Linked DNA regions of Homo sapiens: region 2 is linked to region 1. Evidence: fine-mapped expression QTL. A gene starts in region 1. The other region holds a variant in brackets. All regions are shown on one strand. Distances are from middle to middle.

Region 1 (2,902 bases):
GAGCACTCACCTGTCAGAGTCGAGGGACACCAGGTTTTCATCTGGACTCTGGCTAAGAGCAGTATAGCCCTTGTTAAACTTCACTGACCTGAGGGGAGACGGGGGAGAAGAGACCAAACATAGATGAAAGCATAGGCATTTCACAGGGATAGGCAGAGTCCTCGCCCTGAAGGAGAAAGAATTGACTGCACTACTGACTTGCCTTCTCCCTGGTCACAGCCACCACTGCCTGCAGCTCCATGTACCTGGCTACAGTGCCTCAGAATGTGTATGTTCTCATTCTTTTTTTCTTTTTTTGGAGACAGAGTCTGGCCCTGTCACCCAGGCTGCAGTGCAGTGGCGCGATCTCGGCTCACTGCAATCTCCGCCTACCATGCTCAAGTGATTTTCCTGCCTCAGCCTCTTGAGTAGCTGGGACTACAGGCGTGCCCAGCTAATTTTGTATTTTTAATAGAGACGGGCTTTCACCATGTTGGCCAGGCTGGTCTCGAACTCCTGACTTCAAGTGATCCACCCGCCTCGGCTTCCCAAAGTGCTGGAATTACAGTCGTGAGCCACCACGCCCGGCCTGTATTCTACTCCTCCCATAGGTCTTGGAAAAAAGCACACCTCCCCTTGCCTGATCTAGGAAAAGCACCCTCTCCCCACTTATTTAATCAGAGGACACAAAAACTGCAAGTCTTTGGGTAAAAGGTTAGGGTTAACCTTCACTTCTCCGAGTTTCAACCCTCATCTGTAAAAGGAGGCACTGAATAAGGTTCTATGCAGCTCCGAGTTTACTATTCTGTTAAAAACAAACAAACAAAAACAGGTCTAGCCATTCCCACACTGCTCTTCGTCCTCATTGCTGGGGACTCCAGCCACCATTCTCCTCCCTAACAGAGGAGGAGAATGATAGTGAATGAGCCTGTGCACTCACAGAACTCCCTTATTCCGAAGCCCTTTATCTGATCCTATCACATCCTTAAAGGAAAAGAGAGATTGTTCCTCTTCCCATTTTAAAGATAGTGAACCTGACAGGTTGCATCAGGGGAATCGCTAGCTCGGCCTTAAACCAGAGCACCCTGCCTCCGTCCTGGGGATTAAAGCCTTCTCTAAAGCTGCTGGCACAGAGGAGGTGGCGCCTGCTGAGACCTTTTCCCTGAAGAGTCTGGGCGGTTCGGCGAGGCCCCCAGCATGCCTTTTCTCCGCAGAACGGCCTTGGCCAGGTCCCGGTGCTTCTCTGGAAGTTAAAGGACCCGGGTCAGCCGGGTCTTCCCCACTCCGCCGCGTCTCCCGAAGGCTGGGAGGCCGCTCTTTCCGAACGGATTTTGAGGGGCGAGAGCAGGCTGCAGCTAACCCCTTCCCTCCGGGGCCGAGGCCCAGCGGAGCTCCGGAACCCGCCCTGGGGACGCGGCCGCCCGCCCAGGGAGAAACCTCCCCCGACCATCGGGCCACACTCACGCAGCTTGGCTTGAATGGAGGGTGCGCGCGTCACCATGTATGGCCCCCGCTTTTCCACGGCCGCGGGGGTGCGCTCCCCCAGACGGAGGGCTCTATTACCGATCTGCCCGGAGGGTGGCCCCGCAGCTCCCGGCGCGCGGTCCCGAGCCCCGCTGGGCCGGGGTCCCGGGGTAGACAACCGCAACGCGCGCCCGCTGGGCTCCGCGGTCGCCATGGCCGGGCCCCGCCCTGCCGGATGGTGCAACCCCGCCCGTGGCGAAAGAGTGACCGGCCGAGGGAGAGGCGGGCTCTTTTAACAAGATGGCGGTGCGCAGGCGCAGGTAGTCCCCTTTCGGAGCTCTCCGGTTCGGTAGTCTGAGGACTTGGCCGAAATGTTCCGCCCTTCTTTTCGGGGGGACCGGGCAGTTCCGTTCTCGGTTTTGGGGTAGGCGGCTTGAGCCTGGTGATGGTTAGGCTTAGTTCTGTCTCTAGTGGAAATTAAATACTGATACTGTCGTGGGGCTGCGCGTGTGCGTCGGTCGGGTGCCCACGGTTTGAGTCCTGGCGCGCCGCACTCTGTGCTTCTCGCAGTGTCTCCTTGGGGGTCTCCCCACATGTGGGGCTGCCAGAGAGCAGACTTGGGTTGAAGAGTCATATGAGGACAAGCGTTATCAGCGACCTTTTCTAGCAAAAGAAACAGGCCCCAGAAGTTAAAGAACCTTGTGAAGGTGACACATCTAGAGGCAGTGCTTGCGCTGATCCATCTGACGCCAAACCCCACCTTCTTTCCAACACCAATTGGTGCCTGTGACATTGGACAGGACCTGACCCTCTCTAGGCCTCAGTTTCCACATTTAAAAATAGAGCCAATGTCACTACTCATTGTACAGTGAGGCAAATAGGCGTTGAAAAGGAGGGTGAAAGTGCACTCTGAGTCTGTGTGTGGTAGGCTATGTGTCAGGGCTCTTGACTTCTCTAGCCCCCAAGGGATGTGCTTGTGACTGGCTGGAAAGAAACTCCAGATCCTTGTAGAACTCCCAAATCTCATGAGGCTGTCCCTTGACTAACTTACTGGCTTCAATAGGGTAGGTCAACAGTGTGCAACCTCCGAGCTCCCAGGGCCACGCAGACCGTTGGGTGGCACTATGCCTTGGGCAAGAGAGGTGAAAAGGAAGAATTTAGGGCTGAAGTTTTCAAAAATCAAAAGCACAAAGGAATCCTTACCATTTTGGTAGATTCCCCCCACTCCCCATGATGTTAGACTGTTTTTGCCTCCAGAAACAGCAGGTTCATATAGCTCAACTTAGTATTTAATGGTTATAACCTCCCAATGAAGCCAATAGTTATTCTTGTTAAACAAATGAAGCTTAGACTTGGTCAAGTTTACCAGTTAAGTGATAAACCTGGAATTTGTACCCAGTTGCCTGTGGACTCCAAAGAAGTAGTTTTCTGGCCGGGCACAGTGGCTCACATCTGTAAT
Region 2 (2,902 bases), 130 kb after region 1:
GGAGTTCGAGACCAGCCTGGCCAACATGGTGAAATCCTGTCTCTAGTAAAAATTCAAAAATTAGCTGGGCATGGTGGCGCATGCCTGTAATCCCAGCTACTTGGGAGGCTGAGGCAGGAGAATTCCTTGAACCTGGGAGGTTGCAGTGAGCCGAGATTGCGCCGCTGCACTCCAGCCTAGATGACAAAGTGAGACTCTGTTGTTGTTGTTGTTGTTGTTTTTAACAAAGAAATGGGGGGATTCTTTGATCTCATTTTGTTCATCTTCTCTTTTGAGCTTGTGGTGGTAGGAGGGACCTGAACCGAGGCTGGGTGATTCATCTCCTGTCCTGGGCAAGTTCTCTCCTGGGGTGCTAGGGTACTGTGGTTGGTGACCTACAGGAAGTGTGGGAAACGTCAAAGGGGCCAGGGGCAGGAGATGGCTAGTATCCATTTATCAAAAAGGTGAAGGAGGTGAGCTCCACAAATTGCTACAGATGAGGCTTGTAAGTGCTAAGAAAAGCTAGATTGGGATCACTAGGAACAAGGCATATCGATTTTAGTTTATGTTTTGGATAGTAGACAAAGTATTTTTCGATTTAGATGAGGCCTTTGATGGAATCCTAGGACCTCTCCCTAGACCACCTGGGGATGTTGTCAGCATGTTATAGCCAGTGAAAGATCCAACTTGGAAAGAGTTTCTTCTTGGTTCTTTCTCACCCCTTGCTCTGCTGCCACACCCACGCCCGTGGACATTGTGGGTGGCCTCTGCCCTTGACTTTGTTCTGTTCATAATTTGGATTAGTGTCTCTGGGGGCTACTGATGGTGGTGCTGGCTGAGAGGAGGAGCAACAGGATTGAGCTCTCAGGAGCTCTCTGTAGGCTGAGCAAACAGCAGACCAACTCTGGTGAGGGGAAGTTTACCAGGGACATGTGAGGGACAGCATTTGGGACCAGAAAAATAACTGCTCAGATACAGCCTGGCGCTTGTGGCTTAGTAGCAGCATGAATGAGAATAATTTTTTTGAGTTTTTGCTGATTGCAAACTCCATACATCAGCAGAGGGATGTGGCCACCAGAAGAGCTGCTGTGGGCTCAGGCTGCACCAATAGACATGACGCTCTAATTTCTTCATGAACCTAACAGTGGGGTTGCCTTCTCCGACCCCTGGAGGCAGAGTAAATGGCTCTCACCTGTGGGTTCGTCACTTCTGGGAAATTTAATTTAATTTTTTTTTTGTAATTTTCTCCTATTTTTCTGTTCTCTCTGGAACTCTTTAATCGTCAGATTTTTTAACCTACTGAATTGATTCAATTTTCTCATCTTTTTTCTACTATTATCCGTTTCTTTATCTTTTTTTTTCTCCTTTCTGGAAGATTTCTTTTAGACTTGTGTTGAATTTTTTATTTCACTGTTTATAATGTTAATTTCTAAGAGTTCTTTTTTGTTCCTTGAATACTCATTTTAAAAAGTGTTATGTTCTTGTTTCTTGGGTGTAGTCTCTCATCTTTAAGTTTTCTTCTCCCTCTATTGTCTCTGGGTTTCTATTTTCTGTTTGTTTGTGTAATCTCTTTCTTGCTAGAGGA[C/G]TCTCCTCAGATATCTGATACTCCTTGGCTGTTCTTATTTGGGTGCCAAAAGTTGATTGGAAACTCTGTCTTCACTGCCAGGGACTTGGTACTCATCTGGTATTGAAATGTTTTGTTGGTGGACCTCTGAATTCCATATCTGAAGGTTTCCTTCCCTACCACATCTCCCTACTGCCAGGGTTATTTGTTTTTTCCAGAAGGACCCTATCAGTAGTCTCCTGCCTGGTTGACCTTGCGTTCTTAGGGTCAAGTAGGGGAAGCAGGCTTGGGTCTCTGTTTGGTCTGTAGATACTCACTTCTGCTCCAGGACTCCTTTGACCTCTGTTGTGCTAACTCTGCAAGGGTAGTATGTTTGGCTGCCTTGGGTGGGAAGAAGACCTGGGGGGACTTTAGCTGTTCCTTCTACAGGTCAGGAAGTCCTCCTGTATTCAGCTATCTGCCTCATGCTCACCTTTGTGGTACTCACTGCCTCAAGTCCTAGGCTCCTGGGCTCTAATTGGCTTGTGTCTCAGTTACTGTGTAGGCTTTGGATATTTTCTTTTCTCATCTAATCTAATCTTATCTTGTAGGATCTGCTCTGCTAGTGCTTCCTTTCGCTTCCATCTTCTGAAAGCGCATTGGCACGTCTTAACTGCTGTTGGTTCCTCTTCTTTTTGTTCTTGAGAATTTACTTCTTTTCTTTCTTTGTTTTTTTTTTTTTGAGATGGAGTTTCACTCTTGTTGCCCAGGCTGGAGTGCAATGGTGCGATCTCAGCTCACTGCAACCTCCACCTCCCAGGTTCAAGCGATTCTCCTGCCTCAGCCTCCCGAGTAGCTGGGATTACAGGCATGCGCCACCACACCCGGCTAATTTTGTATTTTTAGTAGAGATGGGGTTTCTCCTTGTTGGTCAGGCTGATCTCGACCTCCCCACCTCAGGTGATCTGCCCACCTTAGCCTCCCAAAGTGGGATTACAGGCGTGAGACACCATGCCCAGCCGTTCTCTTCTCTTCTATTCCTTGACAAGGTCTCACTTTGTCACCCAGGCTGGAGTGCAGTGGCATGATCTTGGCTCACTGCAGCCTCGACTTCCTGGGCTCAACTGATCCTCCCACCTTGGCCTCCAGAGTAGCTGGGACTATAGGTGTGTGCCACGATGCTGGCTAATTTTTTTGTATTAGAGATGTGGTTTCACCACGTTGCCCAGGCTGGTCTTGAACTCCTGGCCTCAAGCAATCTGCCTGCCTCAGTCTCCCAAAGTGCTGGGATTACAGGCGTGAGCCACTGAGTTTAGATCGTTTTAAAAAAAATTACTTTACTTTTATTTTAATGGGCTTCTGGGAGGGAGCAGAGTTTAC

The links. PIP is the estimated chance that this variant, and not a neighbour inherited with it, causes the effect.
Region 2: its variant is the best candidate, but not a certain one, in a credible set for the expression of FAM219B in whole blood (TOPMed, PIP 0.60).

The regions. Positions count from the first base shown.
Region 1 is chr15:74,905,144-74,908,045 of GRCh38, forward strand. It overlaps FAM219B (family with sequence similarity 219 member B), which reads right to left and starts at 1,708. Exons shown (of 5, transcript NM_020447.5): 1 at 1,444-1,708; 2 at 1,135-1,222; 3 at 11-88. The coding sequence starts at 1,657. RefSeq lists enhancers at 318-1,124, 1,125-1,929, 1,771-2,050 and a silencer at 1,411-1,710.
Region 2 is chr15:75,037,538-75,040,439 of GRCh38, forward strand. All of the region lies in intron 2 of PPCDC (phosphopantothenoylcysteine decarboxylase), which reads left to right. Among named protein-coding and RNA genes, the nearest start is that of PPCDC, 15 kb to the left of the region's middle. The variant C/G (reference allele first, on the strand shown) is at 1,565.